7 separate regions of the Homo sapiens genome follow, and all the other regions are linked to region 1. Evidence: fine-mapped expression QTL. A gene starts in region 1. Each other region holds a variant in brackets. All regions are shown on one strand. Distances are from middle to middle.

Evidence for each region.
Region 2: its variant is fine-mapped to the expression of ZNF469 in CD4 T cells (BLUEPRINT, PIP 0.95).
Region 3: its variant is fine-mapped to the expression of ZNF469 in blood mononuclear cells (TOPMed, PIP 0.99).
Region 4: its variant is fine-mapped to the expression of ZNF469 in whole blood (TOPMed, PIP 0.98).
Region 5: its variant is fine-mapped to the expression of ZNF469 in blood mononuclear cells (TOPMed, PIP 0.94).
Region 6: its variant is fine-mapped to the expression of ZNF469 in whole blood (TOPMed, PIP above 0.99).
Region 7: its variant is fine-mapped to the expression of ZNF469 in fibroblasts (GTEx, PIP 0.95).

The regions. Positions count from the first base shown.
Region 1 is chr16:88,380,838-88,385,336 of GRCh38, reverse strand. ZNF469 (zinc finger protein 469) reads right to left here and starts at 2,378. Exons shown (of 3, transcript NM_001367624.2): 1 at 2,083-2,378. RefSeq lists enhancers at 3,019-3,562, 4,107-4,499.
Region 2 is chr16:88,764,086-88,768,085 of GRCh38, reverse strand. All of the region lies in intron 1 of PIEZO1 (piezo type mechanosensitive ion channel component 1 (Er blood group)), which reads left to right. Among named protein-coding and RNA genes, the nearest start is that of PIEZO1, 19 kb to the left of the region's middle. RefSeq lists enhancers at 1-453, 3,348-4,000. The variant T/G (reference allele first, on the strand shown) is at 2,361.
Region 3 is chr16:88,138,930-88,143,428 of GRCh38, reverse strand. It overlaps a transcript of ZNF469 not described here. Among named protein-coding and RNA genes, the nearest start is that of LINC02182, 53 kb to the left of the region's middle. The variant T/G (reference allele first, on the strand shown) is at 2,477.
Region 4 is chr16:88,191,664-88,196,162 of GRCh38, reverse strand. LINC02182 (long intergenic non-protein coding RNA 2182) reads right to left here and starts at 1,882. Exons shown (of 3, transcript NR_110944.1): 1 at 1,652-1,882; 2 at 1,298-1,413; 3 at 946-1,096. It also overlaps a transcript of ZNF469 not described here. RefSeq lists enhancers at 1,065-1,597, 1,806-2,100. The variant T/A (reference allele first, on the strand shown) is at 2,318.
Region 5 is chr16:88,285,146-88,289,644 of GRCh38, reverse strand. It overlaps a transcript of ZNF469 not described here. Among named protein-coding and RNA genes, the nearest start is that of LINC02182, 93 kb to the right of the region's middle. The variant G/A (reference allele first, on the strand shown) is at 2,224.
Region 6 is chr16:88,428,244-88,432,742 of GRCh38, reverse strand. ZNF469 (zinc finger protein 469) reads right to left here. Exons shown (of 3, transcript NM_001367624.2): 3 at 1-4,499. LOC112268182 (a long non-coding RNA gene) reads left to right here and starts at 2,381. Exons shown (of 3, transcript XR_007065178.1): 1 at 2,381-2,471; 2 at 2,621-2,779. RefSeq lists a silencer at 1,988-2,147. The variant C/T (reference allele first, on the strand shown) is at 2,148.
Region 7 is chr16:88,310,816-88,315,314 of GRCh38, reverse strand. It overlaps a transcript of ZNF469 not described here. Among named protein-coding and RNA genes, the nearest start is that of ZNF469, 70 kb to the left of the region's middle. The variant C/T (reference allele first, on the strand shown) is at 2,212.

The DNA of each region.
Region 1 (4,499 bases):
GTCAGAACCGGAAGGGAGGGTAGGGGGCTTGTCTTGAAACCATCTGGGCTCCAGATGAGTCCACCATGGCCTGATATCTAGGGCACTATCGGTGGTGACAAGACTCCAGGAGAAAGGAGGGGAGGGCATCTCTGCTTCCAGGCCACCCTGGTGTTCAGGTTTACTTCCGTTCAGCAAACACGAGGAAAGGGCAGAAACCCACTGAATTTCTCCCAGGGGAAGGTGGCAGGATGGGGCCTGACCAGGAATGTCAAGTCAGAAATGACCTGAAGAGATTAGGCATACAGGGGGAGACCATCCCTATTAAAATTATCCAAAGGCAGCCATGTGTAACAGCTGAGCAGATGTGCTGCCTGCTGCCTCAGGATGATGGACCAGTGCATTCCAGCTGGTAGGACTGCAGGAATGGCTGGAACAGGCTGCTGTGATGGGGAGTGAGTTCCCGGTCACTGGAGGTATCCAAGCAGAGTCAGTAACCTGGAGGCAGGGTCTGGTGGAGACTGAAGCGCTGATGAGGGGGTTGAAGTTCATGACCCCAAAATTTCCCTTGACCCTGAAATCCTGGGACTTCCTGGTTTGCACACTGCCCAGAGCTGCCAGCCTCGGGGCATTACAGCCACACACCCTTCACCTGTGCCTCCCAAGCTGAGACTCTGCGGGGCCCCTGGGTTCCCTTTGAGAAGGCCCTGGCCTTCCTTTTTGCCTCAGATATCCTCTTCCTCTTTTCTATTTGCAGGGCAGAATGATCACCTCCCGGTGAGCTCTGTCCTGTGGTCTGGGACCTGCCAGGCGCATGGCATGGAAGACACGTCTCCCAGGCCACCTCCTCCGAGGGTGCCTGGCTGCCCTTCCTAAAACTGCAGCTCCGCCCCAGCTTCCGAGCTCCCTGCTCAGCCCTCACGCCCGACGCTGTCCAGGCATTTACCTGTTTATTTTGTTTATTTTCAGGAATGCAGGGCTGTGGGCTGTGCTGGGGGCACCTAGGACAGGCTGGGCACTGAGAGGGCCTCAAGACACCTTTGTCCACCCGACCGGCAGAAGGGAACTAGACTTGCTCTTGGCAGAATGGGCAGGGGCTGTCCACGACACTACCGCGTGCTGTGCTCACTTCCCAGCATCAGCCCACTCTGACCATCAGTTTCTGCATCTAAGACTTGGGTTAACACGGATCTCAGGACGTAAGGATTAAACGTGATAACACGTGGCACACTCCCTATGCCCAGCATGGCTCACGGCTGGGGATGAAGCAGTTAACCGCCTCCGCTGCAGGAGCGGACTTGGCAGCTGAGCTGCCCCCCCGCCCCCGCCGGGGACCTGTCCCTCTGCCCTCGGCCCAGGGTGCAGGGACAAGGACTGGGTGGCCGCGGGAGTCCCCCGAGCCCCATTGGCCTTCCCTTCCGGCCGCCGCCACGCGGGGCGCCGCGTCCCCACGGGTCTAGACGTCCAGCCAACTTCCCGGCTCTGCAAAAGCCTCTGGGGGTGCGCGGGGCTGGGCGGGGGTGCGGCGTGGTCTCCCCCAGGGTGGGCTCCAAAGCTCCCACCCCCGTCCGGGGCGCTGACACCGCCGACTCGCAAGCCTATGCCGCGCTCGGAGCGCCGCGGGGCCAGCACGCCCGGGCGGGCGGCCCGGAGGAGGCGGCGGCACGGCTGGGGCACCCCCGGCTCCGATCCGCGATGAATGGGGCGGCCCGGGCCCCGCTCCCCGCAGCCCCGCCCGGAGGTCCCGCTCCCCGAGCCCCTCGCTCCGCGGCCCTCGCCAGTACGTTGCCCGGGCGCTTCCCAAACTGCCCACGGAGCCGGACCCCGCGCTGCCAACGCTCCGCTCCGGGCAAGGCTGCGGCCCCCGCCGGGCCCCGGCGCTCGCTGCCCCGCACGTCCGGGCCCGGGAGGAGGAGGTCGGGGGAGCCGGGCCGGGCGCCGCGAGCGCTGGGAGGGTCCGGCCCCGCCGGGGAGCGGCCCCCGAGGGCGCAGGAGCGGGAGCCGGGCCGGAGACCCCCGCGCAGCCCGGTGACACCCCCGCCCCGCGTTCCAGCCCGGGGTCCCCAGGCACCGCGCGCGCCCAGGCGGCGCATCCGCACTCACCTCCGCTCCGAGGCCCGCTCCGCCCGCCACGCCGGCCGCCGCCAACGAGCTCCCGGCCCGCGCCGCCCCAGCGCTCTGCAGCGGAGGCGCCGTCCTCATCCCGACCGCAGGCCCGCCCGGGCCGCCCGCCCGCCGGGCACCGAGCCGCTCTGCCGCGCGCTGCGCCTCGGGGCGGGGTGGGAGGAGAGGGAGCAGCCGCCACCCTGCCCAGGTCGCCGCGGGCCAGCCCTGCAGCCAGCTCCAGCCCTGGGCCGGGTGCTGGGAAGGCCGGACGCCGGCCGGCGGCCGCGGGGTCTGCCCCCCGGAGGCTGGGGCGGCTTAGGTTACAGACTCCGCCGCCCCCGCACCCTCCCCCCAGCTATTTTTAGCGCCGCTTTTCCTAGGTGTTTGTTTCATGGGACCCACCCCGGCGATGGGGGGCCCTGAGGCATTGCTCCCTGAACCCCCTCTTCACACTCCCCAGCCAGCCCACCCCAGAATGGCAGGCCTTGCTGCTGAGACGGAAACGCTGCATTCAGCACAACTTAAAAAACGTCTGCCATAATGCTACCCATGTGGCTTCCAGTGGCTGCTCTATCTCCATCCCTGGCCTGCGCTCCAGCTCCCCAGGTGCCCACACATGACACGCTTGTCCCTGTGCTTCTGTCTAGGAGGTGGGGGATGTCCCGACTGGCACCTGGCACCTGCCTGGGCAAGTTCGGTTTGAGTGGCTCAAGTTGGCCCTCGAAGGCACCATAAGGAGGTCCCCATGGCACGCTTTCTCATAGGTGGGAGCTAACATTGCCCCCAGACCTTCGTGTCTCCACTCTGGGTCCCTTGTCCAGCCCTGGGACTGCCCCAGACTGGCCCGTGAGTTCGGCAGCATTGCTGGTGGGGCGCTAGGAGCCATCCAGGCCCCTAGAGAGGGAGAGGCCCTTACCGGTCATTTGTCCAACATCTCCATTCACAGCCAAGGAAACCAAGGCCTGAAGAAGACAAGGAACCTGCCCAAGGCCACACGGCGGAGATGGCTCCAGGCAGAGCCCCCTGGCCCAGTACGTGCCCGTCCCCGGCTGTCCCAGACAGGGGCGTGTGGGCCTCCTCCAAGGGCAGGGGTGCAGCGTTACGGGCAGCATCTGGGGACGGATCGCCCTCCCCCACTTCAGAGGATCCCAAGTCATGAACTTGGTGGACTTCTAAGAAATAGGGTGGCAGTGGGGGGACTTCGCAGAAAGGAATGCTTTCAGAATTAGTCCTTCAGACAAAGGTCCCCCGGGAGCAGGTCAAGCACGCTTTACTTACGCAAGTTCAAGTTGCACACCCTTTTAAGGACACCTTTATTATGTAAAGCAAGGTGTGGCCTAACCACGGGCCTTCTGGTGGAGCCAATGAGTGGGCCTGCCCCTCCCCCAATCTGGTCTGCCTCCTGAAGCTGTTTTGGGACTCTGCGAACGGTATAGAATAAACTAAAAGGAACTGCACATGGCAGTGGGGTTTCTGTGCTGGCATCGCAGCACATGGCATTCCTGCCAGTGGACGCGAAAACGTGAATTGAAAAAGGGGCAGGGGCTGAAAGGCCCCAGAGGCTCGAGGCTTGGCTCACATTTCCATGGCATCATCTGGGGCCTCCAGGTCCTGGGATCTCCCTTTCCATGGAAAATGGGGAAGAACTAAGAAACCCTCTCGAGTTAATCAGGATTTCAATCAAGCGGGTTTCCTAAAGTTTCAAGGGCCAGGGGTCCCCTGGCTGTGGACAAAGACCCCAGAGGGCGTTTCCTTCCTTCTCGTTTCTACTGGGTCTGTTCTTGTTTCTAAGAAAGACTTCAATTTCCAAACCCGTGTGTGTGTGTGAGAGAGTGCATGTCTGTGTGTGAGTGCGTGTGTGTGAATGCATGTCTCTGTGTGTGAGTGCATGTGTGTATAAGTGTGTGTCTGTGTGCGAGTGCATGTCTCTGTGTGTGAGTGCATGAGTGCATGTGTGTGAGTGCGTGTGTGTGAGTGCATGTCTGTGTGAGTGCGTGTGAGTGCATGTCTGTGAGTGCGTGTGTGAGTGCATGTCTGTGTGTGTGTCTGTGAATGCATGTGTGTGAGTGCATGTCTGTGTGTGAGGGCGTGTCTGTGTGTGAGTGTGTGTGTGAGTGCATGTCTGTGTGTGCGTGTGTGCGAGTGCATGTCCGGGTGTGTGAGTGCGTGTGTGAGTGCATGCCTGTGTGTGAGAGCGTGTCTGTGTGAGTGCATGTGTGTGAGTGCATGTCTGTGAGCGCATGTGTGTGAGTGCATGTCTGTGTGAGTGCATATGTGTGAGTGCATGTCTGTGTGTGAGGGCGTGTCTGTGTGTGAGTGCGTGTCTGTGTGAGTGCATGTCTGTGAGTGTGTGTGAGTGCATGTCTGGGTGAGGGCATGACTGTGTGTGAGTGCATGTGAGTGCATGTCTGTGT
Region 2 (4,000 bases), 380 kb before region 1:
ATGGCTTTGGGGGCTCGTGGGTCCCACTTTGCAGACCTCTGCTTTAAGGGGTCTGGTCCACGGGGTCCCCTCTGGAGGGCCTGGGGGAAATCTCAGGGACCTGGGGTCTGGACCCGGGGGAGGGAGCGGGAGAAGCATGTGCGTGAGTCTCGTGCTGTCAGGGAGCCCGGGAAGTCTGCGAGGGCTTGGGGGTTGTGTCAGGGAGTGTGGGTTTTGCCCTTCAGTGGTGGAAGCTGGCTTGAGTCCCCTCGATCCCTCAAGGCTGTAGTCCTGACTCGGGGCTGTAGGGCAGGGCAGGGTGGGGTCACCCTGAGGCAGAAGGCTCAGCGGAGATGTTCTGGCTTGGCTCTGCCCCTCCCTGGCTGGGTGGCCTCACCCTGTGACCTTTGGGGACCCTGGTTCCTCTGAGCCAGGGGACAGCAGTGACTCCGCCTTCCTAGGTGGCTGAGGATGACATGGGCTCCCCCTGCAAATGTGGGTTCTGGCTCAGTGGCCAAGTGTATGATGGTATGTGGCTCTTGGGGTCCTGAGAGAGATGGGAGAGGAGCAGGGGTTTGTAGGGAAGCTGGCGGCTTCCACCCCAGCCAGTCACCTGCAGTGGGGGAGTTCCAAAGCTGACTGAAGCTTCGACCTTGTGGCTGGTCCCCTTCCTTCCTGCCTCAGTCATTCTGGTCTCTGGGGGATCAGGGCTGGGGGGCTCTGGGCTGTGGGGGCCTGTTTTTGTGACTTAAAGCTCTCCCAGCACAGCCCCCTGACCTCCTTCCTCATGGGCAGGACCTGGCCCAGGGGTCTCAGCACAGCCACAGGCCAGGGATGCCCTTGCAGATGGCCCTGGATGGAATTCCAGAACTCAGAAATGTCTCCTTCCCGTAAGGATGTCCCGAGACTCATGAGACCGTTTCCTTCTGGGAAGGGGGAGGAATGGGGAGATGAGTGAAGAGCGCACTGCAGCTCAATCCGGGAAGAAGCTAATCAATCAATCAGGGAAGCCAATCGATCGGAGAAGCTGATGGGAAAGCTGTGCTTGGTAGAATAGGCTCGTGCGGGCAGAGCAGTCGCGGCACTCACAGGCTGACTGTGAGGACCTTGGGTGTTACTTTGTGCTTCTCTGCATTTTAAAAACTTTTGAAAGTGGAGAAGAGGAAAGTGAATGTTCTCTGAGATTTCATGGAAAGGGGAAACTGAGGCCCACTCTAGCCAGTTTGGGCCCAGGGTTCCAACCTGGGGTGGCCCCGGCCCTCGTGGCCTGAGGTGATCGTCCCTGTGGCTCTGAGAGCAGCTGGGGCCGGGTCCCCGTTCTGGGGCTGGTGATCCTGGGGAAGAGCCAGGCAGTGCCCTGCCCACCTAGTGGTTATGAGCCCAGAATGTTGATTTTTTTCCCTTGGTTGCTTCATGACTTTGTTGAATTTCCAGAGTATGTGTGGGGGCCCCCGGCGTCCCACTCGCCCCAGCCCTGTGGCAGCAGAGCTGGCTGTCAAGCTCAGTCAGCTGGGCCCAGGGCCCCGGAGGTAGGTGGGTGTGTGCCTGAGCTTCCCCTTTGGGCCCTGCCAGGTGCTGGGAGGGACCACACAGGCGGCAGGAACTCGGGGTCCCCAGGCCTCGGCCACACCAGCCTGGTGCTTGTTATATATTGATATGTCTCTCTACCTGTGAAATGGGTATTTATTTTAAGGAGCTGACGCACGCGATTGTGGGGCTGTCACGTCTGAAGTTCGCAGGGCGCGCTGGCTGTCAAGAGCCGCTGTTGCAGTCTCGAGTCCAGGCTGTGCGCTCAGGCCGGGCTTCTCTGTGGCGGTCCTGGGAATTCCTCCTCCGGGCCCTTAGGCGACACTCCCCTGCCTTCAGCTGATTGGATGAGGCCCTCATGCCGTCTGCTGATTTAAATCAATCTCATTTTAAAAACACCTGCACACCAAATTGCGATTGGCGTTTGACTAAACTGGGCAGCGTGGCCCAGCAGCGCTGACACATGAATCAACCCTCACACCCCACCCGCAGGCGTGACCACGGCACCCACGCTGCCGACTGAGAACACAGCCGTGCGCTGACTCGCATGTGATGTCTCTGGTCGCACCTCCTCCATCCTCAGCACCCTGTTCAGAATGGAGATAGCGGCCGGGTGCAGTGCTCACACCTGTATCCCCAGCACCTTGGGAGGCCTGGGTGGGCGGGTCACCTGAGGTCAGGAGTTCGAGACCAGCCTGGCCAACATGGTGAAACCCCATCTCTACTGAAAATAGAAAAATTAGCCGGGTGTGGTGGCAGGTGTCTGTAGTCCCAGCTACTCGGGAGGCTGAGGCAGGAGAATCGCTTGAACCCAGGAGGTAGAGGTTGTAGTGCGCGAGATTGTGCCACTGCAC[T/G]CCAGCCTGGGCGGGCGACAGAGTGAGACTCTGTCTCAAAAAAAAAAAAAAAAAAAATTAGAGATAACGACTTGGGCTCTCTAGAGACCAGGGAGCCAGGCTCCAGGCGCTGCTGTCCAGCCCCTTGCCAGCTATACGAGGTGCTCACCTGGCCACGTGTCCGGGCAGTGCTTCTGGGGTGGCATCCACTGGGAGGGCAAGATGGTTCTGGTACAGGTGCCCAATTCTGTCCCCATTTCACTTACTGGGAACTCAAGGCACAGAGAGGGGAGGGCTGAGCTAGGACCAGACCCCAGTCTCCTGCAGAAGTACACAGACATGATGTACGACCATCCTGGACACCTGCCCTGAGATTCCCCTCCCTCTCCTGCCCTGTCCCAGTGGCCTGGGGGGAAGGGGAAGCAAGGTTCTGAAGGGAGTGTGACCAGACACCTGCCCGTGACACCCCCTCTCCAGGCTGCCTCCGAGTGGCTGGTGACTCCCCTCCTGCCTGCGAGGGAGGTGGCCAGGTTGCATTCCTCTCTGAGTGCCGGGGAAGTCCCTAGAGAGCAGGCCAGCCTGTGACTGGGCCCTGGGGCAGTCTAGACAGGCCAGACTGGACAGGCCAGGGGGCTGGGTGCCGCTGGGTAAATCACAGGGTGAGGGCTCTGAGTCAGCACCCCATCTTCTGTCCTGGGTCCAGCACCGCTGAGGACACAGTGGGCAGCCGGGTCTGCCAGGGCCAGGTAGCTGTGTTGAGAAGGCAGTGCTCCTGAGAGGCGGCTACCGGGAGGTTTTCAATGGCCAGGCTTCTTAGGAAGCCCTTGTTGCCTCTCTGGGGTGAGTTGCTGGGGCCATGGTTGGAGTGGTCGCCAGTGTCTGCCCCTGGTGCCGAGGGCGGAGTCCTCGTTTTGGGAGGTCACGGCATGATGCTGGGAGTCAAAGGCAGGCCGTGGCAGGGGCATTCCTTTTTTCTTTCTTTTTTTTTTTTTTTTGAGACGGAGTTTCACTCTTGTCGCCCAGGCTGGAGTGCAGTGGTGCGATCCCAGCTCACTGGGATCCCAGGCTCCCAGGTTCAAGCGATTCTCCTGCCTCAGCCTCCCGAGTAGCTGGGATTACAGGTACGTGCCACCATGCCCGGCTAATTTTTGTATTTTTAGTAGCGACGGGGTTTCGTCATGTTGGCCAGGCTGGTCTCGAACTCCTGACCTCATGATCCACCCGCCTTAGCTTCCCAAAGTGTTGGCATTACAGGTGTGAGCCACCGCGCCCGGCCTGGCAGGGGAATGTCGACGCGTGATCTCTGCCTGGAGAGCACGTTCATGTTTCCCAGAGGACACTTTAGAACATGGCGCCTGGGTTTGGATGAACCTCAGCCTAAGAATCTACCTGCTCAGGATCCAGCGACGCTGGTGGTGTGGACTTCAGCTCTGGAGAATGGGTTATATGGAACCTGGGCGCCGGGAGGGCATTGCCACGTGCTTGCTGCTGGGGCTTCAAGAGGACCCCATCTCCTGTGGCCGAGACCCCGTGTCTCAAGGCACATCCCCTTTCGTACCCCGCCCCACCCTCCGCAGCTTCATGACCTCTGGGTTTCCCCCAGGACCTTCGCATCTGATGTTCCCAGATCCTTCCTGCCACTGGGTCCTGCTCTGGTGCCC
Region 3 (4,499 bases), 240 kb after region 1:
CACAGCCTCGGTGCCCCACCCTGCTCGGCGCCCCAGCCCGCTCTGCACCCCACCCCGCTAGGCGCTCCACCCCGCTCTGAGTGGTGCCTCCTTAAGGCTGGAGACGGCCCTGAGTGCGTTAAGCACGCTAACCTATTCCATCTTCATGGTGTTGAACAGGTTGGAACTGCTGAAATCTCCATTGACACAGGGGGAAACTGAGGCACAAAACGATCAAGCACTTGCCCCTGATGCCATGACTGAAGAAGCTCCAGGTGGGCATTCCGTGGGCAGGGCCGCTGAGCCCCCCACCCCCCCAGGGCTTCTCCAGGTGAGGATTCGGTGAGTGCTCACCGGGTGTCGGTGAAGTGCCTGGGGCCCCATCTCAGCCTGTCTCCTCCCATCCTAATCACAGGCCGGTGAGGTGGGGATTGCCACCCCCAGTTTTCAGGCAGAGAAACTGAGACCTCTGCTTGTCTTTATTCCTGAGACTCTGATTCTGCCGCAGGGGCTCTCCCTGAGGGGCCCTGTGCTCTCAGGCCCCTGTGCGTGGAGGGTGACGATGCCATCCGTCCCACCCTTGTGGGCCATGCTGGCCCCAGGCTGCACATCCAGGTGGGGCTGGGGATTAAAGCCAGCACACAGGTGTGACCCACATCAGGGACCCTCGGGTGGGATCCACAGCGACGCAGCTGCTGCCGGCCGACTCCCCGCAGGGTGAGCTGATGAGCCTCCCCAAGCCTCAGTTTCCTCCTCTGTAAAACAGGGTGGTGACATGTGCTTTATAGACCAGGCAATAGAGTTCGAGCCCCAGGGCCACACCTGGCACATCACGTGTGCTCAGTAAACAGAAGCCATTCTTCAAGCTCCTGAGACTTGAGGCTCACGCTGAGGTCTGTGCTGTTGATAAGGACCTTCTCAGTCCTGAGGCTGGAGTTCAGTGCTTGAGGCTCACACTGGGCTGTTGATAAGGACCCGCTTAGGCATCACTCTGAGCTTTTCAAGGTCCCTCCCATCTATTTCCACTTTCGAGCCTCAGGATAACCCTCGCAGGATTCTGGCCCGCCAACATCATCTGCCCAGCCTGGATGGCAGGGCCAGGGCCAGGAGGTGAAGGTCAGGTGCCTTCGCCTGACCTAGCAAAGCAGGGCAGGGCTGTGGCTGAGAGCCCAGGGAACCTGCTCACCCTCCCAGGGCAGCCTTTCCCAGACCCCCCGCCCAGCCGGGTCTTGCAGGAAGGACAGCTGATTTATTCTCACCTTCTTTCTCTGCTTCCCTGTGCTGAACGTGGCCCTGCAGTTTCACCCTGGACGCACCCTTGGACATCGCTGTGTTGTTCCCCTGGAAGCCTGTTGAGATCCTGGCCGCTGTGGACTATTTCCTATCATCTGCATCAGGCATCTCGAGCTCAGCTCAGATCTGCACACATGAGCCTGTCTGCGTAGCCTCCTGCGGCTGCAGTCACAAATGGCCCACAGACTTATGGCTGAAACAACACGAATGCATTCTCCCACAGCTCTGGCGGTCAGAAGCCCAACCGGCTCTCACGGAGCTGAAATCAAGGTGTCGGCAGGGCTGGTCCCTTCTGGAGGCGCAGGGAAGAATCCCTTTCCTGCCTTTTCTGGCTTCCAGAGGCTTCTGTGTTCCTGGGCTCATGGTGCCTCTGACGTCACCACGACCTCTGCTGCCATTGCCACTGCCTGCTGCTGACCCTCCTGCCCCTGGCCTCCCGCCTCCCTCCTACAAGGATGCCCGTGATGACCTTGGGCCACCCAGATGACCAGGATGGTCCCCACCTGGAGGCCTCTCGCTCAGTCCCATCTGCACAGGCCCTACTGCCGTGGGAGAGGCACACAGCAGGCTCCGGGGACCAGGACGGGGGTGCCTCCCAGGACCTCTTTCCCAGGCTGAGCGTTTCATAGCAGGCTCCGGGGACCAGGACGGGGGTGCCTCCCAGGACCTCTTTCCCAGGCTGAGCGTTTCATAGCAGGCTCCGGGGACCAGGACGGGGGTACCTCCCAGGGCCTCTTTCCCAGGCTGAGCATTTCATAGCAGGCTCCGGGGACCAGGACGGGGGTACCTCCCAGGGCGTCTTTCCCGGGCTGCATGTTTCTTTCCTAGTCCGACTCTTGTCTTCTAACACTGGTTTTGGTGTCTTTTGTTACACAACTGCTTTAACTTCTTATGTAACTGAAGACGTCCATCTTGTCCTTTTTGGGATTAGAATTTGGGGTAGAAAGTCTTTTCCTCCACCAGAATTATACAACTATTCTATTTTTCTACTAATACTTTTATACTTTTTTTGCAATTTAGCGGATTTATCTGCACAGAATTTATTGTGTCCGTAAGGTGGGGTTCTAACTTTGTTTTTCCAGATGGTGGATTCATTGGCCCAACGATGCCTCTGAATGATTCTTTCCTCTCTTTCAAACGTGACCAATTTCCTACATTAAATTCTCTTGTAAAGGGCCATACGCTAGACTTGATTTTTTTGTTT[T/G]TTTGTTTGTTTGTTTTTTTGAGACAGAGTCTCCTTCTGTCACCCAGGCTGCAGTGCAATGGCATGATCTCAGCTCACTGCAACCTCCGCCTCCTGGGTTCAAGCGACTCTCCTGCCTCAGCCTCCCAGGTAGCAGGGATTATAGGCGCCCGCCACCACGCCCGGCTAACTTTTGTATTTTTTAGTAGAGGTGGGGTTTCGCCATGTTGGCCAGGCTGGTCTCGAACTCCTGACCTCAAATGATCCACCCACCTCGGCTTCCCAAAGTGCTGGGATTACAGGCCTGAGCCACTGCGCCTGGCCTCAATTTAAAATCCACTTACCTGTTTCTATACTGAAATTCCTCCTGGATTAACACAGTTTTAGAGTATATTTTGGTAACTAGAAGGGCAAGGCCCCCGGCTTTTCTGCAGGATCTTTGAACATCGCGTCTCTCACGTTCTGCCTGCTCATTTGTAAATCAGTGTTGTCACTGACTTTCCGTGCTACCCCCCGATTTCTACGTGGCTCCGTCCTCCTTTCCTCCGTGCTACCCCCCGATTTCTACACGGCTCCGTCCTCCTTTCCTCCGTGCTACCCCCCGATTTCTACGTGGCTCCGTCCTCCTTTCCTCCGTGCTACCCTCCGATTTCTAAATGGCTCTGTCTTCCTTTCCAAATATTTATTCCTCCGTATTGTATTTCCCCGGCCACTTTTCTTACCAGCTCTCTTACAGCTTCCATTTAATATAGCCAAAGTTTTTTTTTATGACTATATTTTTCATTTAAATCGGTTCTGCCACTTCAATGCCAAATCCATTTCTCTTGCTCTGGACTTTCATTATGACTCCCTCTTTTGTATTAAATAATTTTAGATAAACACATGTATTTCCTGCTGTTCAATTATTCCCTGTCTGCACAGTGCTGATTCTGTGTTCACTGCACTTGATCCTGACAGTTCGTTTCTTCCTGTGGCTGTTTATTGGAGCTCAAACTCGGTAGGAGTTATTTTGTGTATCTTTTGTTGTTGATGCTGTTGTTTGGAGACTGTCTCACGAATGCTGGGCTGAGGAAATGTCCTCATTTACCAGATCCTCTGGCCTGGGGTTCTGTGAATTTCCGTCTTAGGGATTCTGTGCTGTGCTAACCATGCAGTCACCAGACTCAGGTGTCGAGAAGGTCTGGAGATTCTATTTCTTATGGGAAACTTCTTTCCTCTACTCAAAGCCTGGACAGACAGCAATTTTCCTCATCATGTCCCCAGGCCAGGGGACAAAAAGGTTTCAGATCCACTTTTCACAGCAATTTTCTTCATCACGTCCCCAGGCCAGGGGACAAAAAGGTTTCAGATCCACTTTTCACAGCAATTTTCTTCATCACGTCCCCAGGCCAGGGGACAAAAAGGTTTTGGATCCACTTTTCACAGCAATTTTCCTCATCACGTCCCCAGGCCAAGGGGCAAAAAGGTTTCAGATCCACTTTTCACAGCAATTTTCTTCATCACATCCCCAGGCCAGGGGACAAAAAGGTTTTGGATCCACTTTTCACAGCAATTTTCCTCATCACGTCCCCAGGCCAAGGGGCAAAAAGGTTTCGGATCCACTTTTCACAGCAATTTTCCTCGTCACATCCCCAGGCCAGGGGGCAAAAAGGTTTCAGATCCACTTTTCACAGCAATTTTCCTCATCACATCCCCAGGCCAGGGGGCAAAAAGATTTCAGATCCACTTTTCACAGCATGCGCAGTTCCTTGGGGCTCTGAGCCTCCTGGCTGGGCTCATCCCAGCTTCCAGCATGTGGGATGCAGAGCAGTCTCTGCTCTGACGCTCATCACAATTCTCAGGATCTCCGAAACACCCTCTCATTTCACTCTTCATTTCTAGTCCTGAAAGCTTTCCCGGTCTTTCTTTCAAGCTTGTCTATGGACTTAAAATGTTGCAGGTTACATTTCACCCAGAATGTCTGTGTGTTTACATTGGGACAGGGTCCCCCCTGTCAGCACAGCCTAGCGTTTCACCAGAGGCCTCCCTCTAGCATTTTCCAGGC
Region 4 (4,499 bases), 190 kb after region 1:
GCAAGCCATGCCTCTCTCTAGGCCTCAGTTTCGCCACCTACACACAGAAAGGCGAGGGCTGGCCTCACAGACTCCAATGTCCAAATGCAGATGGATAAGTCAGAGCACAGGTCTCCAGGAAAAACAGAACATTACTGATGTGGCCTGAGATATCAGATGTCTGTGGATCACGACGCAGCCTCCTCTGGGCAGAATAATTCCAGTTTCCCAAGTTAATCATCTTGGGAGCAAGTGTCTGGGCATCAAGTCCTGCTCGGTGTTGTCTCTGGAGCTCCCTCCTACCTTCCCAAACCCACAGAGGCTGTCCTGACCAGTTGACATGGAATATAAATTACTCCAGAAGAGATTTCCCTGGAGACAGCTCAGGGTGGGGGACCAATGAGAGACTCATGGGACCTTTCCTGACGCTCTGGGCTCTGTTCTCCTTTGCATCTCGGGACACCCCGAGGTCTCAGAGCAAGAGCCCTCTTCCCCCTTTTCTTCAAACGTCCATCTGCCATTGTTAGCTGGGCCCATGCCCTCTCGAGGACTGTTACCACCTTCATGCTGAGTCTGACGATATGACAGAGAGACTCTCACCCCAAGACACGTCCAACTTTCAGAATCAACTCTGCAACCTTGTCTCTTGGCCAGGATCAGCCGACAGCCCCAGCTAAAACCCACTTCCCCTCCAGCCCTCAGATCACCTTCTGTTCCCCCAGAAAATCCTCCCTCACCCACAGCCTCAGAGCAGATTATCAGTGTGAACTGAATCATGGATTTTCGCAAAACCACCCAGCGGGGCCCACGAACACAGCTATAATTAGCAGCACAGTCCCGGTGCAGAGGCTGCAGGTCATGCATGTCCAGAAAGGCAGGCCCTGTCACCCCCTGGGCCGCCTCCTGCTTTTAGCTCTCCAGGCTGGGGGATTTTGTTTGTGCACACTGTAAAAATTCACGCTCATCTGAAGGCACGTTCCATGCACACGTTATTTATTGTGAGATCAGCGTGCGATTACAACACAGCCAGCTGTATTCTGAGAACAGGCGGCTTGCGACCAGAGAGCCGCGCCTTGAAGCCCATCACCTCCTCGCCCACATGCGTTTCCCGTCAGATCTGAAAGGCGACAAGGGGAGAAAGACAAGCCCATCCATCAGCCTGCACCTCTGGGGCCTACGTGGCCCAGAGTTCTCCGAACTCGTCCAGTGTCCACAGCCCAGCAACACGCATGAGGGCTGAAGAAAGAGAGAAATACCGTTCCCTGGGACAGCGACGTGGACCAGCCCCACCGATTCCCTCCCCGCCCGGGTAACTCACTCCATGCTGTGTCCTTGGCCTCCTCTGACGTTACGAAACCCAACCCTGCGCTTTTTTCTTTGCTGCCTTTTAAAGACAGAAGAACAGCTGACACTTCCCTTTCAGCCGGCACCGTCCTGGCATGGGGAAAAAGCAGATGGAGGCAAGTCAATTGACATGTTGACAAACCAGTGGATCGGAAAATAAATCTACCCTGATCAAGTCACAAAAGCACGGGGAAGGAGACGCCGGGGGCAGCGCGAAATCCCGGGCACGGCTGCCTCCCGCCCCACGCCCAGGACCGGGAAGGGCCACGCAGCTGTGATGTTTTTCTCTCCAAAGGGAATTAATCATTTCCAGACGCCGGCCCAGCACCTGGTGCCCAAAGCCATAGGCCTGGGAGCTGTGCAGGTCTTGCAGGCAGACGACACCACTTAGCGGACGCGATTTCTTCCCTGGTCCCACTGCCTGGTGCGTGCAGAGAAACTACTCCCAAGTGGGAAGTGAGTGGCTTGTTGAGGCTTGGGACAAAGCTCAGGGGTGTCCCAGGTGAACCCCCTTCTCTAAAACAAGCAGGTCCCTCCCTGCTCCGACACTGAAATGACATCACGGGGCACTGAGGACGTGAGGCCCGTCCCCGGCTGCTGCAGTGCAGTGCCACCTGCAGGCCGTGTGGCCTGAGCAGGCTGTGCCATCTCCAGGCCTGCAGTCTCTCGTCTGTAGGAAGAGGATGATCAGTAGCCCAGCCTTGGAGGTTTGTGTGGCGGAGGGGGGAATAAACCAAGTAACCAGGGGCGGGAGCTTAAAGAGTGATTGCACCAAGCCACACTCTGCAGGTGCCGGGCCACGCTGAGGCCTGAGTGTTTGTGTCCCTCCACATTCATTTGTTGAAATCCTTAACCTCAAAGTGATGGGATTAGGAAGTGGGGCCTTCGAGAGGTGACGAGGTTAAGAAGCAGAGCCCTCATTAATGGGATGAGTGCTTTATAAAAGGCCCTAGAAAGCCCCCTTGCCCCTTCCGCCATGTGAGGGCGCAGTAAG[T/A]TAACCATCTATGAGGAAATGGGCCTCACCAGACACTGTCTCTACTGAGATCTTAATCTTGGACTTCCCAGCCTCCAGAACTATGAGAAAGAAACTTCTGTTGTTTATAAGCCACCTAATTTATGTTTTTTTGGGGTTTTTTTAGAGACAGGGTCTCGCTCTGCCACCCAGGCTGGAGCACAGTGGTGAGATCATTGCTCACTGCAGCCTCAACCTCCTGGGCTCAAGCTATCCTCCTACTTCAGCCTCCTGAGTAACTGGGACTGCAGGTGCACACCACCACACCCAGCTAATTTTAAAATGTTCTGTAGAGATATGGATCCTCCTGTGTAGTGCCCAGGCTAATCTCGAACTCCTGGCCTAAAGTGATCCTCCAGCCTCAGCCTTCCGAAGTGCTGGGATTACACGTGTGAGCCACCATGCTTGGCCTCCAATTTACGGTATTTTGTTAAAGCAACCCAGATGGACTAAGACAACTCTCATAATCAATATCATCATCCTTATCATCACCACCGTCACCACCATCATCACCATCACCACCAACCCCACCACCACCATCTCCACCACCACCATCACCACTACCACCATCACCACCATCACCACCACCACCATCCCCACCACCACCATCACCACCATCCCCACCACCATCACCACCACCACCATCACCACCATCCCCACCACCATCACCACCATCCCCACCACCATCACCACCATCACCACCACCACCATCACCACCACCACCATCAACACCATCACCACCACCATCACCACCACCACCATCACCACCATCACCATCATCACCACCACCATCACCACCATCACCACCACCACCATCACCACCATCACCACCACCACCATCACCACCACCATCACTACCATCACCATCATCCTCATCATCATCACCATCATCACTATCACCATCATCACCATCACCTCCATCATCACCACCATCACCACCACCATCATCATCATCACCACCACCGTCATCACCATCATTATCATCATTGTCATCACCACCACCACCACCATCACCATCATTACCATCATTGTCATCACCACTATCACCACCATCATCACCATCATGATCATCACCACTGTCACCACCACCATTATCAACACCATCATCACCACCATTATCACCTTTATCACCACCATCATCACCATCACCACCATCATCATTACCACCATCACTGCCATCATCATGTGATGACTCTCAATACTGTCCTCATCATGTGTGACTTGGACTGTGGACCAGCCCCTCGGGCTCTGCTCTGCTGACCTGTATTCTTTGTCTCTTGCTCCTGAGAAGCTGGGAGTTGAGACCCAGTAAGGTGTTGTAGAGACACTTGTGACCCCAAATTCCATGAGACAGAGGACCTCCCATTTTCTTTTCCTTATTACCGCATGTCATCTTCCTGCACAAAGTAGACAAGACCTTGATGTCTGTCTCCGTTTCCCAAAAGAGTTACCAAGGGGGTGTTTTCCGAACTACCTGGCTCAGACTTCTTTCCCAGCATGGCCTGGTGAGTGCCAAGGAAAGGAAGCTGAGGCTCTACCAGCAGCCTTAGACCTGACACAATGTCCCTGCTCCATCTCCCTGCAGGAGCCATGCTCACCCCGAACGCTTCCACCAGCTCAGGCTGCATGGTTTCAACAAGAGGAATTTGTTTCTCATAGTTCTGGAGGCTGGAATTCCAAGATCAAGGTATGGCTGACTTGGCTTCTGATGAGGGCCCTTCCTGACTTCCAGGTGGCTTCCCACAGTGTCCTCACAAGGTGAAAGAGGGAGCTCCAGCCTCTTCCTCTCCTTGTAAGGACACCAGTCCCATCATGGGGTCCCACCTTCATGGCCTCATCTAAACTTAATCACCCTCCAAAGTCCCCCCCTCCAAATACCATCACGCTGGGTGTTAGGACTTCAATATACAAATTTGAGAGGGAGACAATTCTGTCCATAGCAGGCCCCTGGGGTCCCCATCCCAGCCAGAGTAACCCCACAGAAGCTACCAGTAAATCTCCAAAGCCATCACCATAGCCCACCGAACATTTCACCTCTGCCTGCGTTCTGAGAGTGGGACTTGTTCATTGTTCTGTTTTAATTCTCAGCAGGGCCTATGACCATGTCTGATGTTCAGGGAATGAAGAAGTGAAGAAAGCAGGAATGAATGAAGGAAGGAAGCAG
Region 5 (4,499 bases), 96 kb after region 1:
TGACTTCATTTCTCTCTCTCTCAGCTTCTTCATTTGTAAAATGAGTGAAATAACACTCATTGCTCATGGAGTGGTGATGGGAGATTAAATGAGCTAATTTAGGTGAAGCACTCAGCATAGTACTTACTTAACAGAGAACAAACACTCAATAACTCGCAGTCACAGATCGGTGTAATTGTGTTATTTTAATCATCATCATCATATCATCATCACCCTTGTCATAATAATCATCATCATCATCACCATCATCATGATCATCACCATCACCATCATCACCATCATCACCCTCATCAACACCCTCATCAACACCCTCATCATCATCATCGCCATCACCATCATCCTCATCACCATCATCATCACCATCACCCTCACCATCATCACCATCACTGTTGCCATTATCACCTTCATCATCATCATCACCCTCATCATCACCACCATCACCATCATCAACCTAATCATCATCAACACCCTCATCATCATCATCATTGCCATCACCATCATCCTCAACACCACCGTCATCACCATCACTGTTACCATCATCACCCTCATCACTATCAACATCCTCATCATCATCACCCTCATCACCACCATCATCACCATCACTGTTATCATTATCACCCTCATCATCGTCATTATCATCACCACCACCATCATCACCACCACTGTACTATAACTGTAGAGTCACCAAGAACACTGGATGTATGGAGTGTCTGCTTTATGCTCTTTGTCATTAAATGACTTTCTGGTACTGTTGCCCTTAGTGCTTCTGTTACAAGTGCTCTCTCTCTCTCTCTCCTGTGAAACTCTGGTCACAGGCTTTTACTTTTATTTGTCATCCTTTTATATTAAAGCCCCTCTGGTACATAGCTTTTGACATAGGAAGAGCAAGAGCCTGGAAGTCAGGAGATTTGGGCTGCATACTTTTTGGACAAGCAGGTCTCAATCTTTCCATCTATGCAACAGGGGTTACATGAGACAGTATCAGGGGTCCCGTCTAGCTCCAGCATTCTAGAATTCCTCTTGGCAGAAGAGCTTGTTTTTGATTCATTGTGAATTCCTCAAACACACATAGCAGGTGTTCATCAAGTGAATGCTGAATTAATGAATAAATGTGATGAGTATAAATGTCAAGAGAGTGATGCAATAAATATCATAGAGTGTAGCCTTGATGATTGATAGATTTGGATAGGTGGATGGGTAGGAGACAATGTTCTTGGCAATAAAAATGGGGTGAACAAAGGCAAATATGATAAATAAAAAACAGGTAGGTCCTGCCATCAAGGAGCGTGAGTGACAGAGTAGAATAAACACATGTGAAAACATCCAAGTTCTCAACATGCGTGCCTCCCTGGCTCCCTCTCTCACAAAGCTACTGGGGGCATGCTCCATGAAAACAAGGGAGTAAACCAAGAAGGTGAAGGGCATGGATCTAGGAAGCAGGAGATTCAACACAAGAGCAAGGTACAGATACTCCCCGGTAAGATGGAGAAAGGAGACTCGCAAAATGTTGACTGACCACAGGGCACGGAGAACATCTAGTCCAGATTGGAGCAGCAGGAGGAAAAAGGTTTCTCCACAAAGATGAAATGGATAAATTATCTAGTGTGTTTGAAAGTCTTGGGAGGAGATTTATACAACTGGAGTGAGTTTGGGATTGAATTAATAAGTGCACAGAAAAGCAAGCAAACAAACCAGCCAATCACAACCAACCGACAAAAATCTCAAATCATTTCTAAAAAACATGTGCAATAAAGAAAAGGAAATGACAGTACTCAGTAAGCCTCAGTTATGAATTACAGCTACGTGATCACCATGAAGTCAGCGCTGGCCATAAGGCTAATGCGGCAGGGTGAAGGAAGTCTAGCCTGGAGCGTGAATGCATAATGCTTAAAACAGAACTTCAAGAAGTAGCGTCACACCAGCATTCATAGCAACATGAAGACCGGAAAGGGTACTGGGGGTGGGGGCTGGACCTGGGAGGGATGTTGTTTCTCATAACAAGCCTTATAGAACTGTTCAATGTTTTAAGGCTTTAAGTGATGTGTATTTATAATTGTGATAAAATGATCCACCAGATAAAAAGTGAGCTACAGTTTTGCCAGCATGGGATTGATAAAGAAACTGAAGTTCAAGGGTAGCAGGTGCTACAAGGTGGGGAGACTTGGAGCTGTTGTCTCCCCCTAGTGGTAGTGGGCAGTGGTGCAGCCTTTTGGAGGTGGCTGG[G/A]CTCCGCTGGTGCGGTTGTACACAACCACTGTCTACAATGCAACATGCCATATACATGTGCACCTAGAGAAACCTTTGTGCCACACATCAGGAGACTTGTGATGCTCAGAGCAGTTTCACTGTGACAGCAAAACACTGGAAACTCCTGTGTCCGTTGACAGGAGACTTGGGTAGACAAATTGTGGCACATTCACACAAGGGTGTATTATACAGCAGTGAGGATGAATGGCCATCGGCTACGGACAACAACCAAGGTGCACCTTAGAAACTGAAGATTCGGTGAAATAAAGCAAGTCACAGAACAGCATATGGCCTGGACCCTACCATGTTCAGAAAAGCTTTAAAAAGCAAGAAAAATCTAGTGTTTGGGGACACTAGTTATAGGGTAGAACTGTAAATAAAAGCAAAAGAATAAGAAAAACGGGACTTAGGCATTCCTAAGCTCATTTGAGCTGCTGTAGTCAGATGGTCTCATACACACTCCCCCTGATGTGGCTCCACCCACATCTCCTCTCCTGAGCGAGTTCCCCAGAGCTCAGTATCTGGGAGTCGAGGGCCTCAGGGGGACTCATGTGACCTGGATGGATGCAGTATTATAAGACACAGAGGCAGAGAGGGGCCAGGACAGGGCCACAGGGCAGTATCTGTCCTGTTCTGTGGGCCACGCAGCACTGGGAACATGAAAGTACTTTTCTGTTCCTTCTAAAGCTCACAGCAGCTCACCTGTCAGTCATTGGGAGCCTCTTCCCAGCCAGCCCCTGCTGAATGATGGCATCTTGTCAGCACTGAATGCAGAATGTTCCTGTCCTCCACATTCCCTCCCCCACCTGCACTGACAAAGCCCTGGCAGGGGCCCAGGCCAGGTGAGGGGCCATGTCCTCTCCCGATGGCAAGTGGCTCAGATCAGCAGCCAGAGGATGGCATGTGGGAGCTGGCTCCTGCAGATTGGCAGGAAGGTGTAAATACCCGGCGTTCAGATGGGGAGAGGATGGGGCAGGGAGAAGAGGGCACCAGCGAGCTCAGAGCAGACAGGCAGGTGCAGAAAGGCCTGGCAGCCACCTGAGTATAACGGCAGATGTCAGCAGCCAGGCCGTGGCTCTCCCAGGACTCCAAGGAGCGAATCAATCTTGTTGCACAGTTAGCTGCCGCTGAGGCCCAGGAGCCTGAATCCATTCAGGACTCTGTGGTGAACGGAGTGGGGGCTTCTTAGGAAAACAACTGGAGGGACCTGTGACTTTGAGAAACTCATCCGTCCCAGGCAGGACAGGATGCACAAAAACTCCAAAAGCCAAAGGCAGTTCCCAACAGGGGAATGTGCTCCATCCCCAGCAATGGGGCACGATGGAGGCACCGAGTGGGCTGGGACTGGGGCTCCTGGGCTAAAACACAGGTGGGTGGTTCTGAAAGGAAGGAGATGGCGATGCTCCGGGCTGTGGGTCCGATGGGGGCTGAGCAGACAATGCCAGAGTGAGCGGCCTTCACAGGGTCAGCAGGAGTCTCATGGAGGGATGAAGACATCTGTAGCTGAGGCCTTCTTGTGGCCACAGGCCAAGTGGCACGAGGGCCCCTCCCACATGGAAAGCATTTGCCACCACTGCACTGTGACGAGGGTGGCCTGGGAAGCAGCAGACAACATGGTGGCCCCTGCCAGAGGGCACTCCCAACCCCCTCACTGCCCACCACTCAGAGAGGGCCCAGGGACATCACCAGCTGGCTTGCTCTCCACCGGCCCCACGGAGGCCCTGAGCACCTCCCCACCGTGCCGACGCTTCCAGCGTGTCTGAAAGGACATTACATGGACAGACCACAGCTGTGGGCAAGAGGGTGCCAAATGGGCCACAGGTGGGCCTCGGGTCCTGGGTGCCGTGTCAGCTGCTGGAAAGGCCTCACCTCGTGACCAGGCTGACCCTGCTCTTTGTGGCCCTGCCCACGCTGGCTGTGGCAATGCCTGGAAGATTCTGCTGTGACAGTGTGGCCTCCCACACTGTCTCCCCACAGCCCCTGGCTGCCTGTCTTCGTCCACCAGGGTGACCATGGCTGCTGCACCTGCCTGATCCCCTGCACAGATGCCGAGGGTTAGAGACCGCTCAGCAGTGGGCCCTGCTCAGAACTCTCTCCTGAGGGCCTCACCTGCCCTGGCAGGAACCCTCATGTACCCAGAATAGCTCCATTGCGGGAGGCGGGGCTGATGCTGCCTGCCTACCACAGCTCTGGGGGCAGTTCTCCGGGCACACGGGCCTTTGGCCCAGATAGCAGCCCTGAGACTCCACAGTCAG
Region 6 (4,499 bases), 47 kb before region 1:
AGCTGGCGGCCTCCTTATTCTTAGGAAATGAAAGTTCCTGGTCGGGGCTGCACTTTGCTAAACTCCCGGCATCCAGCTGTGGGCCAGGCTGCTTGCTGGGCTCAGGCAGGCAGACATCTTGGGGGGGCCTGCTGTCTCCTTCTGCCTGGCAAAGTCCAGTCTTGGAGGCTCCGGCTTTCTGCACTGGCTGAAAATGGAAGTTGGCTCCCCTGGGGCTGAAAGGAGCCCCAGAAACCAGGTCTTCCTGGGCACAGGGGAGAAGGGCTGCATGTCCCGGATGGAAGGAGGCTGGGCAGGGCCACGTCCCCCCAGGCCTCCCCTGAACCGCTTCCACGGTGGCCACAGCCGATTCCGCACCCTCCCGATGTGCAGTGGATTCTCCAACGCGCGTGAGGTCAGCTGCCGAGAACGTGTCCTCGTGGGGCACGGTGGCCTGGCAGGTGCGCCGTTGGGAGGGTGGCTCTGTGCCTGTGCCGAGCTCCACCCTGCCCACCGACTCAGCTTCTGCAAGCTCTCTCGGGGCCCCACGTGTGTCTTTGCTCCTTTGCAGCTGACTTTCTAATTCGGTGACCAATTTCTGGATCTCCAGTTCATCCTCGGACAGGTGACTCATAAGAGCAACGCTACATCCACTCCCCTTCCCAGGCAAAGATGGGGCGGCGCCGGGAACCACTGTCCGTTCAGGGGGACACGTCTTACTGAGCACCTTTCCCCCCGAGAGATCAGGAAAATGGCTAGGCAGCATCGGGGATACTTCCTCAAGCAGCAAAAAAGAGGGGTACGGTGGATCTGACGGCACCGTCTTCTGGGGAGGGTCGGCACATGCGAACGGCAGACCGGAGTCCCTGTTCGCAGACAGGCTGCCATAGAGGGGTGGGTCGAATCTGTCCACCGGCAGGTCTGGGAAGAGGGATGAGGACTCCAAGGTCGGTGGCGATGCAGCCCTGCCTGGCTCCGTCTCAGCGGTGCCAGGTGGGCTCCTTGGCAGCTGTGGCTCGAGGGAACCGGCATCCTCGCCGTCCTGGCAAAGGCAGGAGCTGCTGGCCGGCGGGGCATCCCTGGCTGAGGGCTTGGGGTGCAGTTCTTCCAGGAAACAGCCAGCCAGGTCTTTGGGTCCGAGGAACAACTCACTGTGGGGGCTGCTGTAGGGCTGAGGCCCCTTTTTGGCAACTGGAACCCCCAAGGGGTCTCTGTTAAAACCAGCAGGGTCACAGCCAAAACTGGAGATCTTTGAAGACAGAACACTGGGTTTGGGGCAGGCGGTACTTGAGGGGTTAGCCACGGGTGCCAGAAATTCTCCAGGCTGGCGGGCAGGGGGGTCCTTGCTGTTGTGGGAGACTGGGGCCTGTGTGCCCCCAGGACCACCCAGCAGGCTGCCCACACCTGGCGTTGGCGAGCTTCCGTGGGGCGCCGTGTTGGCGAGGCTTCCCGACGGCTTGGGGGTGCCGGTGTCATGTCTGCTGGGCGGCGGCTGCTCTGGTATCAGGAGACCGGGGCTTGCTCCCATTTCTCCCGCACAGGCGGCTGGAGGAGAACGCAAAGCCTCTGTGAATTCTGTGCTGTCCGGGGCTGACTCTTCGGCAGTTTCAGGCTCCTTGGCCTCCTGGGGAAAGTCCAGCGACGGGCGGGTTTCCTCTGAGGTCTCGGTGTTGGTGGGGACCTGCAGGGGATCCTTGGGGGCCACTGAGGGGCGATCAGCACACTTGGGGCCTCCCTCCCTGGCGGCCGCTCCCGTCTCCAGGCTTCGAGACGGGCCACGGGCCTGAGGGCTCCTGCCGGGGCCCGGGCGAGACCCGCCCGGCTCCTCGGGGTTCGCGGGGGCTCCGTCCCCGCCGGCTTCCTGCCTCGCCGCCTTCCGGGGTTTCTGTGGCTCATCCTCTCTGGGACCCTGGGTCAGCTCCACTTCCTTCCTCTTCTCGCCTCGGCCCCGCCGGCCTCTGAAGCCGGGGCCCCGCGGCGGAGGCTGCTCGTCCTCCTCGGACTCCGAGGCGAAGTCGTACTCGCGGAGCCTGCGGTCCTCAGCTCCGGGCCGGGGCCTCCCCGCCGCCAGGGAGCCGCACCTGCCCGCCCGCCGCCCCAGCCGCCGGTGGCGCCTGTTCTTCTGCTGCACGATCTTCAGAATGAGCTCCTTGCCCCAGGCGCCGCCC[C/T]GAGCCTTCCTCTTCCTGGGGTCCTTCCTGGGGGGCAGCCGGCGGCGCCGGGAGCTGCGGGTCTCCTCGGGGAGGGCGGCGGCTCTCGGGACCCGGGGCGCGGGGTCTGCGCGGCTCCCGGGGGCCTGCGTTCTAGGGCGCCGGGGACGGGGTGGGGGCCGCTCCCCGAGACCGTCGTTCCTCCGGGGCCTCAGGCCGGAGGCTCTGCCGCCGCCGCCCGACCCCGACCCCTCTGCTGCGCCGCCCGAGTCCAGATCCTTCCGGAACAGCTTCAACTGCTTCCCCCTCCTCTGCTGCCTGCCCTGGCTGGGCGCATCCGCCTCGGTGGGGGCCAGACCCAGGGAACGCGTTTTGGGCCTGCCTCGGGCTGGGCAGCCCCTGTCCCCAGGGCGGGGGGTTTGGGGGTCCGGCGTGGCTGCTGGGAGCGGGGGCGGAGCTTTGCTCTCTGGAGTCACCCCCGCCTTGCTCTTAAGGGGGTGTCCGGAGCTGGGACCTCTGGGGCCGGAAGGCTCCTCGTCCGCGAAGACGTCGATGAAGCTGCTGTCGATCTCCGGGTTGTCCGACTGGTACTCCATGCCGTTGAGCGCCTCTGTGATGAGGCTGTCCAGCTTGGCGTCATCCTCCATGTCCAGGTCCGAGGCAGGGAGCGGGAAGGGGGTGGCGGCCAGGCTGGGCAGGAAGCCTGTCCTCAGGGGGTCGTCTTTGCCCTCGGCCTGGGCGTCCCCAGCTAACAGGAAGGTCTTCGCGTGGCTGAGCAAGCCCGCGTGTGCGTCGGCAGGGACTCTGGGGGCAGCGGGGGGCGAGGGGAGCCCAGGGGGGCCTGGAGACCGCTGGTGGCCATCCTTGGCCCTGGCCAGGAGCAGGCCACAGAACTGCCGGTGGGCCAGGAAGGCCGCCAGGCTGCTGTAGTTGCGGTCACACTGCCTGCAGGTCAGCAGCACGTCCAGCTGGTCCAGGCTGGCGCTGCTGAGGGAGAAGTGGTGTGTGGGGTACGGAGGCGGCGCACGGGGGAAGCCCTGCAGCCCTCCCCGACCCACCTCGGGGCCCTCGTGGGGGAATGGGGTCTCCTCCAGGCACTGGAAGGCACCCTCGGCTCCCAGCCCATCTGCGGGAAAAGGGAAGGCCTTGGCTGGCTCTGGCTGGTAGTGGGTGGGGAGGGAGTGGGGGGGCTCCGGGGACGGGAAGGGGCTGCCCGTCTCCTGGGGGTGAGTGGGTGGGTGGAAGAAGGCCGAGGGCCCGAGGGGGCCGGGGAGCTGGCTTTCCTCTGAGCTGGGGTTGGCTGGGCTGCTGGACATCGGCGACAGGGAAGAGCAGGTGCTGCCGGCCGTGTTGGTGGCCGGTGACGGCAGTGGGGACTCGCTGGGGGAGGCTCCCACTACCCTCGGTGGGGGCAGGCTGGGTGTCCCGTGGGGTGAAACCTGGGGCTGGGCCACCCCGAAGAACAGGGGCTGAGCCCCAGGGTCTGTCATTCCGTTGTAGGTGAACAGTGCTGGGGAGCCGCCCTGGCTGCTTCTCACGGCTGGCAGCTTCTCTCTGGGTCCCGGTGTCTTGCCAGCAGTGCCCAGGGCTCCTTGGCTGCCCCCCTGCCACTCGGGGCCCCCCGCGGGGAAAGGCAGCCGGCTCAGCATCTCCATTCCGTGGGGACTTGGCCGGGCGGTCGGGAGCACTTGGGGCCAAGGCAGGGGGGCACTCTGGGGGAGGCAGAGCCGCTGGCCTGGGCTGGGCTGGCCGTTAAAGAACATACTCCTGGTGGCAGCCAGGGGGCCCCCAGGAGGTGTGGGGTAAGGGGCTGCTGTGGGGTCCCACAGCTGGGGCAGCCTGGCGGGTGGGGGCCCTGGGGCGGCCAGCTCGGTGTCCGGAGGCCCCGGGCTGGTGTCCACCCCACTGGCTCTGTACGCCTGCCCTGGAAAGTGCCTCTGGGGTAGGGAGCTAGGGGGCCCTCTCGTGCTCCCCAGCCCATCCTGGGCTGAAGGTGGTCTTTCGGGAAGGATTTTGGTCAGGCTCTTGTGTAAACTGTCAGAGAAGGGTCTCGGGGCCGAGTGAGCAGCTCCAGGGGAAGAGAGGGCACCACTGAGGTCGCTGTGGCGGTTCAGGCCACCTGGCTGGCCCTGGTAGCAGGGCAGGGGTGAGGGCGCAGGCTGGGTGGGCAGCGGGTAGGCAGGGCCCGTGCCCACGGCCTCCTCCGGCCACGCTCCCTGGGGCTGATGGAAGGCAAACACCAGTGGCCCATTGGTGAATGCGTGCCCAGCCACATCCGCAGGGAAGGGTTTTGTGCTGGCCCCATGCAGTGCCGGGAAGGGGAACTGGAAGGAAACTCCCCTGGGGCTGCCGCCGGGCCTGCTGCCTTTGGGA
Region 7 (4,499 bases), 70 kb after region 1:
GGTCTGGGGCCAGTGCCGTGCCAGCCCCTGCCCCAGGGACCTCAGAGGGCACCAACACTCCGACCACACAGATCTCGTGCGCCCGTTTCACAGTGAGGAAAACCAAGCCGCACAACCTTAGGTGACTTGCCCTGGAGCCCTGGCCCTCGGGGGAGACCTTCCTGCCCCTGGCTCTCACCAAAATATAATCTAGGGTCAGAGAGGAAAATCATATCTCATTCAAAACTCCAGGTCAGATCGAGGAGGACACTTCCTCAGCATAATTACAGAGATGATAGTCCACACCAGCATCATCATAATCACAGAGATATTCTACACCAGCATCATCTTAATTACAGAGACAGCCCACACCAGCACTGCCTGAATTACAGAGATGACAGTCCACACCAGCATCATCATAATCACAGAGATATTCCACACCAGCATCATCTTAATTACAGAGACAGCCCACACCAGCACTGCCTGAATTACAGAGATGACAGTCCACACCAGCATCATCATAATCACAGAGATATTCCACACCAGCATCATCTTAATTACAGAGATAGCCCACACCAGCACTGCCTGAATTACAGAGATGACAGTCCACACCAGCATCATCATAATCACAGAGATATTCCACACCAGCATCATCGTAATTACAGAGACAGCCCACACCAGCACTGCCTGAATTACAGAGATGACAGTCCACACCAGCACTGACTGAATCACAGAGATGACAGTCCACAGCAGCACTGCCTGAATTACAGAGATGACAGTCCACACCAGCATCATCATAATCACAGAGATATTCTACACCAGCATCATCTTAATTACAGAGACAGCCCACACCAGCACTGCCTGAATTACAGAGATGACAGTCCACACCAGCACTGCCTGAATTACAGAGATGACAGTCCACACCAGCATCATCATAATCACAGAGATATTCTACACCAGCATCATCTTAATTACAGAGACAGCCCACACCAGCGCTGCCTGAATTACAGAGATGACAGTCCACAGCAGCACTGCCTGAATTACAGAGATGATAGTCCACACCAGCATCATCATAATCACAGAGATATTCTACACCAGCATCATCTTAATTACAGAGACAGCCCACACCAGCACTGCCTGAATTACAGAGATGACAGTCCACACCAGCACTGCCTGAATTACAGAGATGACAGTCCACACCAGCACTGCCTGAATTACAGAGATGACAGTCCACAGCAGCATCATCATAATCACAGAGATATTCTACACCAGCATCATCTTAATTACAGAGACAGCCCACACCAGCACTGCCTGAATTACAGAGATGACAGTCCACACCAGCATCATCATAATCACAGAGATATTCCACACCAGCATCATCTTAATTACAGAGACAGCCCACATCAGCACTGCCTGAATTACAGAGATGACAGTCCACACAAGCATCATCATAATCACAGAGATATTCTACACCAGCATCATCTTAATTACAGAGACAGCCCACACCAGCACTGCCTGAATTACAGAGATGACAGTCCACAGCAGCACTGCCTGAATTACAGAGATGACAGTCCACAGCAGCACTGCCTGAATTACAGAGATGACAGTCCACACCAGCACTGCCTGAATTACAGAGATGACAGTCTACACCAGCATTGTCTTAATTACAGAGAGAGTCCACACCAGCATTATCATAATCACACAGACAGTCCACACCAGCATCATCTTAATTACAGAGATAGAGTCCACACCATCATTGTCTTAATTACAGAGATAGATAGTCCACACCAGCATTGTCTTAATTACAGAGACAGCCCACACCAGCATCGTCTTAATTACAGAGACAGTCCACACCAGCATCGTCTTAATTACAGATAGTGAAATAAGACAGAGATATTCACTAGGATTGAACATTTTTTGGAGGGATGGGCGGATGCAATTGGACTAGAGAAAGAATTACAAGGTATAAAAATTGAAAAAGAGCAGAGAAAATGATCACCATTTTAGTTGATATGATTACATATCTGGAAAATGAACAGAGTTCATGAAGATGACTGGTTAGAGTAAGATATTCAAATATCAACAGCTTTCTCATATATAATTAGATAGAAAATATAATGAGAGATCAAATTTATAACAGCAACAAAAAGATATCTCAGAAAAAACTTAGGAAATGTGCCTCAGCCACATGAAGGGAACTTGGAGGCACAGCGGAGGGATGCTCAAAATGCC[C/T]GAATCAAGGGAAGACCCTAACACTGACCCTGACCGTGACCCTGACCAGGAGCCACGATAATAACAAATATGTCAGTTATCCCTAGATCAGGCTGCAGAGTCAATCAGCTCCTTTTTCCTATACCAACAATTATTTCTGGAACTAAGTAAGTTGAGTCTAAAGTTCATATGGAAAAATAAACATCCAGGCCATCCTAGAATAATTCGTGAGGGCATGGAGGCGTGGAGTCCATGGCGCACCAGCATGGCTTGCAAAGCTACTGTAGTAAAATGCGGTTTGGGGCTGGTATGAAGATGGGTGGACCCATCAGTGGAACAAGGCAGACGCATTGACTGCGTTGTAAAGGCAGCATTTCAAATGGTCTTGGCACAGCTGGCTCACCCCCTAGACAAAGGAAAAATGGCGTCTCTCCCTCAAATCAAAGACTTAAGGGCAAAAAAACAAAAGCACTAGAAGAAATCATGAAAGATGTTTCTAACAAAATAATTTCAGCATGCGCAAGGCCTTTTGAAGAATGAAACAAAACACAGGAAGCTTAAAAGGAGGTGGGTATATGTGACCACATAAAATAAGGGTCTTAAAGCCAACACAAATGAACAAAACACAGGCACACGAGCAAGTGAAGAATTGGGGAGAAATTTGGCAACTTATATATCAGAAACAGGGGATTAAAGAAACAACAAAAAGAGTAAGTTACAGACCAACCCGTCAAGAGACAAATGGGCAAATGGCCTGAGAAGCTGGTGCAAGAAGGTAAATCCCAGCAACCTATAACCACATGAGAACAGGCTGAGCCTCCTGGGAATTAGAACTACCGTACTGATAGGCTTTGGCTGTGTCCCCACCCAAATCTCATCTTGAACTGTAGTTCCCATAATTCCCTTGTGTTGTGGGAGGGACCAGGTGGGAGATAATTGAATCATGGGGGTGGTTTCCCCCATACTGTTCTCATGGTACTGAAGAAGTCTCATGAGATCTGATGGGTTTATACTGGGAAACCCCTTTCACTTGGTTTTCATTCTCTCTTTGCCAGCTGCCATGTAAGATGTGCCTTTGCTCTTCCTTTGTCTTCTGCCATGAATGTGAGGCCTCCACAGCCATGTGGAACTGTGAGTTCATTAAACTTCTTTCCTTTATAAATTACCCAGTCTTGGGTATGTCTTCATCAGCAGTGTGAGAATGGACTAATACAAGCAGCCAATGAGATTTCACCATCAGGTGTTCCACAATCAATCATTTGAAAGCACGCAGCTTCAGGAACAAGCCCCAGGCTATATCATTGCGAAAATGCAAATCAATATGTCCTTGTTGGCGAACGACTTGGCCAACTCAATCCAAGTTTAAGACACAAAAACCTGGGGCCAAGTGTGGCCTCCCAGAAATCTACCTGGCAGGTACTCACAGAGACTTCCACACTAGGACTGTCTCTGCAACGCTGCAGGGACAGCCCTGAAACCACCAGACACCCCTCAGTTGGAGCCCAGCACAGTAAGTTATAGAATGAACCACTGACGGAGGGCAGGCCACCATCCCTTACTAGCTGTTCTGAAGTCCCCACAAAAGTTCTTCTGGAACTTGCTTGGAAATTTGCAGTGAGACTGTTTATTTTCTCTGCTTCTCCAATCAGGGTAAATATTCATGTTTCAGTGCAGAAACAGTCATGGGCTTTCTTATGGGTTATTTCCCTGGATCCCATGGGAGTGCTGTGTAAATGTACATTACATTTCTAAAATCCTGAGCTCTGAAATAAAAAGCCTGTCGAGCTCCAGGGTTTGGATAAAAGCCTGGGGACCTGCAGTTTCAGCTTTAAAAAGAGTGAGGCCTCAGCCAGGTGGCCAAGGTCAATGTCCCCTGCGATGCATCCTGTTGATGATGTAGACCCCTGAGGGGATGTGGTGAGATGGGCACTTCGCCCCCAGGGTCTTCCTCCCAGTGATTCATCGCTGTAGTCTAACCATGAGAAAAACACTAGACAATCCCAATTGAGGGATGATCCACAAAATGCCCAGGCGGTCCTCAAAACTGTCAAGATCCTCAAAAACAAGGAGTTGGAGAGGAGCCGAGGGAGGCGTGACGAGCAAATCCTGGGTGGGATCCGGATGTGGTCCTGGTGCAGGAGGAGGCTGTGAGGGTGCACGGTGAATGAGGATGGATCAGTGTTGGGTTCATCAGTGACAACAAAGGCACCGTGAGAGGGTGAGATGTGGACAGTTGGGCGCAGGGCAAGTAGAAACTCTATGCCATCTTCTCGATTTTTCTGTAAATCTAAAACTGCTCTTTTAAAAAG